2 separate regions of the Homo sapiens genome follow, and region 2 is linked to region 1. Evidence: fine-mapped expression QTL. Tissue or cell type: whole blood. Region 1 holds a variant in brackets; the other region holds the start of a gene. All regions are shown on one strand. Distances are between the middles of the regions.

Region 1 (4,241 bases):
ATATTTAAGAAACCCTGCTATAAACCACCATCTCTGTCCCTATTGCCTTTCCTGAACTGAAAGACACGTAGATTTTATTCCCTCAATCCCTGACCCCTGCAAATCCATTGATGTTCCAGGGTCTCGGAAATGCATCTTATTGCTTTGCCAGATGACTGGGGCCTTGCCCAGTTTCCCCTGCTCTTACACTCAATCCCCGGAAATGGTCCAAAACCACCATCACCACCTGCAGTTAGCATCCTCCCTTGCCGTTCTCTCCCCCACCCCAGTTCACATCCCAGGAGCATTTCCAGCTGCTTCCCCTGAGCCTTGAGGTTTCTGCACAGCTGCACGTCCAGGGCCTCAGAAATCAGCCCTGAGAGCTCCTCCTGAACCTGGGGAGTCTTTAGGATCTTGGAAACTGTAGTGTGTGGAGGCCAGAGCCCACCAGACCTCCTGAGCCTGGGAGGCCAATCACGTGCCCTGTGGAGCACTTGATCCACCAAAGGCTCCTGAAATGCTCCAGCCATTTTCCCCCCACACATTGGATTTATGTCCTCTTTCCAGTTCTGGAAACAAATGGCTTCCCAAAACCCTCTAAGCCAAGAGTGTGTTGACCTTGGTGATGCTGACCTTCAGAGAGCAGAGGATAGAAAGGACCAGCAACTGCCCCACAGGAGGTCAGTAAAAGAGTCACCATACCCTCTTCCCTAGTTAGAGTACAGAAGGACAAAGCTTGAATTACACAAAGAATGGAGAGCTGGGTCTCCTCCAGGGATGCAGGTCAGGCCAGTGTGGAGCCTGCTGCCTTCAGTTCAGACCCAGCAATCCCAGTTCAGTCTTTCCCTGAGGAGGAAACATCGCCCCTAAGGAACTGCTGGCCCACTGGGCAGAATGCATTGCCCCAAGCAGCTGGCATTGCTGTGGGAAGGGAAGATATCCAAAATCTGTTGAGTATTGACTCTGTTCTGGGCATTAAGCTAAGCTCTTCACAGACATATCTCATTTAATCTTCTCATTAGCACCGTTATATAGAAATTACGATCTCGGTTTTGCAGATGAGGAAAATGTGTCTCAAGGACATTAAGTATCCTGTCCAAGGTGACTGCAGCCACTAAGAGGAAAACCCATCCCAGACTCCCATTTTGCAGCTCCTTGCTTTGACCCAAGCTCAAGTGTTCATGCTTTTGGGGGAACTTTTTTCTTATTCTGAAGGCACTAGAGCTCCTGACATTAATGCAAGAACTCGCTTCCCAGTTCCTGAGCTTTCACAGTTGAACAGCCTTCGGTATCTTTGAAGTCTGAGGTCTGGCTGGGGATGGAGGTCAGGGAGAGACCAGTCATGGTGCCCGAGAGTCTGCTGGGATCACTGCAGATGCCCCATTGGTTACCCCACAAGTCCTTGAGGAGTCAGAACTGAACAGAGCCCCTCTCTTGCACTCTTGGGCTCTGATGTCCAGGGCTCTGATGGGGTGGCATCCCTGGGAGGTCCACGTGTGACTCCTCTGGCTCTGCTATCATGCAGGGAGGAGATCAGAGCAAATATAGGGTGGAGGGGTGGCAAACTCACTTACATGGAAAAAAATAAAAATCCAGAGCAAAGAAGGCACTTGGACAGGGATTCTTGGGTAAATGCCCACACAGAAGTATGGGGTATGCATAACAATCCTTTGTCCACTAAAGAAGTGAGATTTAACATTGCTTTTGTCATGGGCCTGGTGCTCCTAGTGGAGCCAGCATTTACCTGGTTTTCTGTCTCCCTGTCCATATTCCCCTGGAGGTACTGGTCTTACGCTGACATGGGAGAGCTATATCCAACATCAGTCCTGCCATAGGGAACTAAGAATAGAGGAATGACACTTGGGCTCAAAGGTATTTTAAAGCTTAGAAATTCCTGAAGGATTGCCCAACCCAAGCTTCTCATTTTAGGAATAACTGGAGACCAGAGAGGCAAAGTGACTCCTGAGGTCATGCAGTGAGGTGATGGCTGAGCCAGGACTATGTCCCCCATTGCTGTACCCCCACCCCTCTGTTAATGATCCTGTGAAGGGATGAGTAGACATACAGACAAAGGGAGTTTCTACGATGATAAGTATTTCTTTTTTCTTTTTTTGAGACGGGGTCTCGCCCTGTCACCCAGGCTGGGGTCCAGGGGTACAATCATGGCTCACTGCAGCCTCAACCTCCTGGGCTCAAGTGATCCTCCTGCTTCAGCCTCCTGAGTAGCTGGGACCACAGGCATGTGCCACCATGCCTGGCTAATTTTCTAAAATCTTTTTTGTAGAGACAATGTCTCACTATGTTGTCCAGGGTGTTCTCAAATTCCCGGCCTCCAGTGATCCTCCTGCCCTGGCCTCCCAAAGTGCTGGGATTACAGGTGTGAGCCCACCATGCCTGGCCTAAGATGTTAAGTATTTAGACTCAGAACACCTCTCTCAGCCAGCCTGAATCTGGGTCTTGTCCTCAGTTCCCCACATTAAATCATGTCCCTTTCTCCTCTTAGGGCGGCACTGGTGGGACTGGCCACCCACCGCCTCCCCTGCAGCCTCTGTAGTTCTGCTTTCTGTTCCTTTTCGGTGTCTGTCCCCACCACCACAACTGGCCCACCCTCCCTCTTTCCTTCCTTCTGTGTCCTGCTGCGGTCTTCCCACTGGCTCCC[T/C]GCATGCCACCACCTGCTCTGTTGGGGGAGAGATGGGCAGGGTCTGGCGGCCGGGTAGCCTCCAGAGCAGGATCAGGGCTGCAGCTGAGGCAGAATGTCAGACATGCTGTGATGCCACCAGCATCTGCCCCAGGGGCTCTGGTGCTCCTATTGACTCAGAACTGAGAGGCTGGATTCATACTCCCTTTGCCCCAGCCACCACCACAGAGTCCTGTACTGTCCTTCCAGCCATCCCTTCCCATTCCCAGACCCCCTGGTCTGGATCAGCTTTCGTCTTTCCATGCCTGAGTTCCTAAACACCAACCTCATCAGCTCCCCATCTCAGCTTGTCACTGGAGCCTGCGGTGTCCACTATGGCTGGAGCCCCCACTGGCCGGCAGCACATCAGATTTGTGTGAGCGCTCAGCAGAATCTCCTGTCCCTCTCCAGCCCAGCGCATTCATTCTGCACACATCTGCCTCTAAGCCCTGCTTCTGGGGCTGACACATAAGCCCCTCTCTCAGATGATGGAGGAAGACACACTCCTTCATCCTTATTCTCTCACCCAAATCCTGCTCATCCTTCAAGGCCCCATTCGGCCCCACCTCGGGCACATGGCCTCATGCAAGTTTTTGGCTGTCACTGGGCACACCTTTCTCTGAACTTTCCCCGCTCCTGGCAATGATTCCAGGTGTGGGGACATTTCTCAGAAAACTACATGGCCCTGAGTTTTCCCAGTCTCATGTGGTCATTCTTCTGGCCCTTAGTCTTTATTTGTATTATGAAGTGTGGCTTGGTGAGAAGACCTTGGACTCTGAGGTCCTTTAGGCCTGGGTTGGAATCCTGGCTTTGCTCCCTAAGCACTGTGTGAACTTGGAACAGTTTTGTAATTTGAGTGAGCCTCCAATTTCTGACCTGGGGATAAGAATACCTATCCTTTAGATTGTTCTGAGAATTGCAGAGACTGTAAATTCATTGTAATAGCTAACATTCATTGAGCCCTTTACTCTATGTCAGATACTCTTCTAAGCACGATTAATAATGTCCATTTTAGCAAAGGGGAAGCTGAGGCCCAGAGGTGAAGCAATTCAGCTAAGATCTCACTCCTAGAAAATGGCAGAATAAGGATTCTAAGTTAGGCAGTCTGACCCCAGAGCTTAAGCCCAAATGTGGGCCGCTGTGGCCATTCTCACATCTCCTTGTGTCTGGTGCTGTGCCCACAGGCTGGGGAGGGCTACATGAATCTTAAAACCTGGGTCAGGCAAAGGGAGGAGTCCCTCTATTGTGTGGCATGGGATTATGACATGGTAAATGGAGCATAAGCCCCAAACCAGGTAAACCACACCATAGGAAAGGCTTTAACTGACAAGAGGGCCCGCCCAGGATCTCAGCTTCCTGGCAGAGACCATGGAATCACACAAACAAAATCAATCCACCTGGCCCACATGAAGCTTGAACTTCTCCCCCAAATTTTACTCACTACAATAGAGGCTTTCTTGGATCCATGCCTTTGTGGTAGCCATAGTGTGTGATTGACGTGGGAGTAAATTAGAATCAGTGGTGTTTTGAGTGTTAATTGAGGCATTCTTTGCAATGCTCAAGATGACGGTAACATTACTAAAGC
Region 2 (4,241 bases), 68 kb before region 1:
CTTCTACTTCCTGTGGTTTATTTTTGCGCCATAGAGCACATTTGTATTTAATGTGTCTTCTGAGCTACCAGCCTGGGAACTTTGCCATCATCACATGCACAGCGGCAGTTTGCTCACCATGCACCAGTGAGCTTCCTCCGCCGCCTGAGCAGCTGGGCTTGGTCCCTGGCAGCAGGCATCTGGGGCATGTAGCTGCCTCTTCAGCTGTCCTGCCAACAGAAGAAACTTACCTCCCATCATCTCCCTGAGTGCCTGCCTCAGCCGCCTTGTATGTATTCATTGCTGTGTCTATAATAAATCAGCGGGTCCTTGCTGGAAGCTTGGACGTTTCAATGGAGAGCTTTCCAGTAAGTGGTGCTTCTGGTTCTTTCCTTCCTGCCTAACCCTTGTCAAATTTCTTTACCATGAAAAGCAGTTCCATATTTGCTAAGGCTTTTAATTTCTTTTCCAAAAAATCTATTTTTGGCCAGACGTGGTGGCTCATGCCTGTAATCCCAGCACTTTGGGAGGCCAAGGCAGGCGGATTACAAAGTCAGGAGATAGAGACCATCCTGGTCAACATAGTGAAACCCCGTCTCTACTAAAAACACAAAAATTAGCTGATTGTGGTGGCGCGTGTCCGTAGTCCCAGCTACTTGGGAGGCTGAGGCAGGAGAATCACTTGCACCTGGGAGGCGGAGGTTGCAGTGAGCCGAGATTGTGCCACTGCACTCCAACCCGGGCAACAGAGCAAGACTCTGTCTCAAAAAAAAAAAAAAAAAAATCTATTTTTTTGGCTTCTTTACCTATATAATCTTCCTGTCTTCTCCAACTCTAGCCTTCTATGTAAGTCTGTAATATCAGGCAGGCTTAACAGTTAGATGAAATCTAGGATTTTCTTGGAAAGGATGTTAGAAAATGAGATTCAGAGTGGCTGTAGGAGGTTACAGAGAGGCAGCAAGAGAGAAAAGGAGACCTTGCAAAGAGAAATCAGGTGGAAGAAGGGCCATAGGAAATTCAGGAATTTCTGAATGGGGCATTTTAGCAAAAAATGAATGAAAAGTCAATGTCATATGAATCAGGGTGTTGCGAACATTAACATATCTGAAAATTGACTTTTGAAATATGTCTCCTCAACACTTGGAAGCTGACATTTCTTCTGCATGACATGCTTGTCAGTTTTATTTTCAAATATCAAAGACTATTTATACAATCAAAATGTCCTTTCACATAAAATTTTTATAGTTTTGCCTGAAAATTTGTGGTCAATTTATTTCTTGCACAGTCAAAGCGGTCAACTGCATAAATCATTACTCCTTCATTGCAAGCCCCTTAACAGTTTAATCCAGAACCATCACTTATGTCAAGGTTCTAATACCATTTGTTTCTGGATTTTGCTTGTTTTCTCTTCATCTATTTGAGATCAGTGAAGAGCTTACACAGAAGTTAGAAAAACAACAAGAATAATTGCTGTTCAAGGTGAGTGGATTAGTGAGTGAACCAATCTAGGTGGTCCAAATGCTTCTATCGCCTCCTTGCCTGGGCTCTGATTACATCTCACTCAGTGTGATGTCTGTCATCCCTGGACAGAGCTGTCTTAACAGTGAATACATCTTTACCTAGCATCTCTCTTTCTAAGAACCCCACTAGGACCACTCTTTGGAAAAATGTGGTCAAGGCCACATCTGGGTGCCTGTGGTAAGCTGGCTAGTCATCCTCGCCCACCACAGATGCTAGCTGCCTTAGCACGCCCAGATGTATAGGTAAGAACCAAGCAACCAAATCATCTTTCTGCATCAAAGTAGCCAAAACTTTTTTGTTGAACCCAGTGATACTTTGTTCAAATTGGTCAAGAATAGAATTGAGTGGTTCAGCATTAAATTTTCCAATTAGTGTTCTGCTTATCATCCCTAAATAACACATCTCATAGGAGTGAAAAGCAAAAAACAAAAAATTTATCTCATCTTTTGGTGTCAACTAGTTTCAATATAATTGTATTCAGTCCCCACTTATCTCGTTTTCCTTAACTAGTTGTTCTTTGATTTCAAATCTGCTGTTCTCCCAGTGGGAAGATCACCTCTTCCACATGTGGAAGAAAACACAGGTTCCTTGGGTTCCCAAGAAGCTGTTCACAAAGCCTCTGCTTATTTACAAAGCAAGATCGATGCTGTCCTACCTGAGCTCATTTTCAACCCTGAACCCTTTCCTGCGGGCCAGCTCCATGAGGAACGCTCTGCGGGTGGTTCCCATTTTCTTCTCCAAAATGAAGACGACCAAATCTTGAAATTTGATGTCTTGAGGAGAGGAGGCCATCAAGGCACCCGTCTGCCGGGGTCTCTTCTTCCGAGGGCTCAAGTGGGACGCTCGTGGTGGATCCATGGGAAGAGGCTGCTGCTGCCTCTGGCTGGCCCATCTGGTGGTGTCTCCAGAAGGGAGGGAGACTGCCACCCTCCTACACGAAGGGTTTTGATGTCATCTCACCAGCAGACTCTGAAGCCAGGCCAGGGCTTCACAGGTGCTGCCCTGGCAACAGCTTCCTGCCAAAGTGTGATGGGGAATTTTTATCTCTGTTCAGTTCATTTGTCCAATATGGAGATCATAATGAAGACAGTCAATTAACTTTTGTTTTCATACGCACAATCTCATTAGCTCCTCAGAGTAACCTCGTGAGGAAGGTAGGGAAGCATCATTGTTTGCATGTTATTTATTTCTAAATGTACTGAGGCCCTTCTGTGGTCTTTATTTATTGATCCCCTTTAAACCTCCCAACTCACTTGCATTCTCCTCCTTTTGTAGACAATCATTACACTGTACTGGATGTCTGTTATTTGCATGGGTGTTATATTCTGCTTGTGGTTGTTTTGACTTTACATAAATGGCATTGTTACATTTCTCATTTTGCCAATCACCTTTTTATTTCACTTGGAACTATGTTTTCCAGATCCGTATTCTAATTGCTCTGTTGCTTCTAACTGCTCCATAGTATTTCATGGTGGGTATTACCACCTGTTCACTTACATAGGTACATTTTATAAGCAAGAGAACCAAGGCTCAGTTATTCAAGATCACAGAATAAGGGGCCAAGCCATATCTTGAATTCAGTTCTTTGGATTCCAAATGCTGTATGCATATATTAGTTTTTTAAGTGGATTAAGGTTGTCCAGAGAGTAGTCTGTTATAAACCCTAAAATAGGTCTTCTTCAGTGGGATGGTATGACTTTTAGATGATAACCACTGCCATAAGGAGACATTTTCATAACTTTATGTGCAAAATTAAATTTGTCTTTCACCAATACACTCTATAGATCTCATTTCCTGAGCAGCTACTACACGGCCAAGGCAAGCACCTACCAGCCTTAGCTGACAGGATCCTCACAATACCACTGTCAGGTGGTCCTACCTTTCTCATTTGGCTAAACAATTTGCCCAAGGTCACAGAGCTACTGAATTTTCACAACTGAGAAATGATTGAGCTAGGATTTGGACTCAGATCTGTCTGATTTTAAAAGACTACTCTTAACCACCAAGGAGCCTTCCTCTGTATTGTCTTCTCCAATAACCAATCTGAGCTCTGCTCACCCTTTGTCCTTTTTTTTTTTTTTGGAGATGGAGTTTCGCTCTTATTGCCCAGGCTAGAGTGCAGTGACACAATCTCAGCTCACTGCAACCTCCACCTCCTGGGTTCAAGCGATCCTGCTACCTCAGCCTCCTGAATAGCTGGGATTACAGGCGCACGCCACCACGCCTGGCTAATTTTTGTATTTTTAGTAGAGATGGGGTTTCACCATGTTGGTCAGGCTGGTCTTGAACTCCTGACCTCAGGTGATCGGCCCACCTCGGCCTCTCAGAGTGCTGGGATTACAGGTGTGAGCCACCATGGCTGGCCGTCTGTGCCATATTATTTGAGACTTTTGCTATCTCCAAAACACGTGAGCACCTCACAACCGTATTAGGGGAAGAGTCATGTGACAGCTGCCTTAAGGCATGGGTAAAGCACTCTGTGTTGCTCAAGAAAGCAAAATCAGAAATCTTCAGGTGGAAATTGTAGAGTAATAGATTCCAGTTCTCCGCAAGTAAGACCTGTTTAGTAACTCAGCTGTCTAAAAATATACAGAGAGCAGCTTTATACAGTTGTGTGTTACAAGTCATGAAAAGTATTCAAACAGATGCTGGATAACTGTTTATTGAGCTGTAACAGAAGGGAATTCAGACATCTGGTAAGGGCCTATAATGCAGCCCTGAAATTCCCGGATGCTATGACT

What was found. PIP is the estimated chance that this variant, and not a neighbour inherited with it, causes the effect. A credible set is the group of variants that fine-mapping cannot tell apart.
Region 2: it holds the start of DNTT, and the variant in region 1 is the best candidate, but not a certain one, in a credible set for the expression of DNTT in whole blood (TOPMed, PIP 0.80).

The regions. Positions count from the first base shown.
Region 1 is chr10:96,234,677-96,238,917 of GRCh38, reverse strand. The region is part of intron 3 of BLNK (B cell linker); the gene reads left to right. LOC124902487 (a long non-coding RNA gene) reads left to right here. Exons shown (of 3, transcript XR_007062255.1): 2 at 547-4,241. Among named protein-coding and RNA genes, the nearest start is that of BLNK, 35 kb to the left of the region's middle. RefSeq lists enhancers at 2,411-2,510, 2,180-2,679. The variant T/C (reference allele first, on the strand shown) is at 2,639.
Region 2 is chr10:96,302,615-96,306,855 of GRCh38, reverse strand. It overlaps DNTT (DNA nucleotidylexotransferase), which reads right to left and starts at 2,422. Exons shown (of 11, transcript NM_004088.4): 1 at 2,156-2,422. The coding sequence starts at 2,358.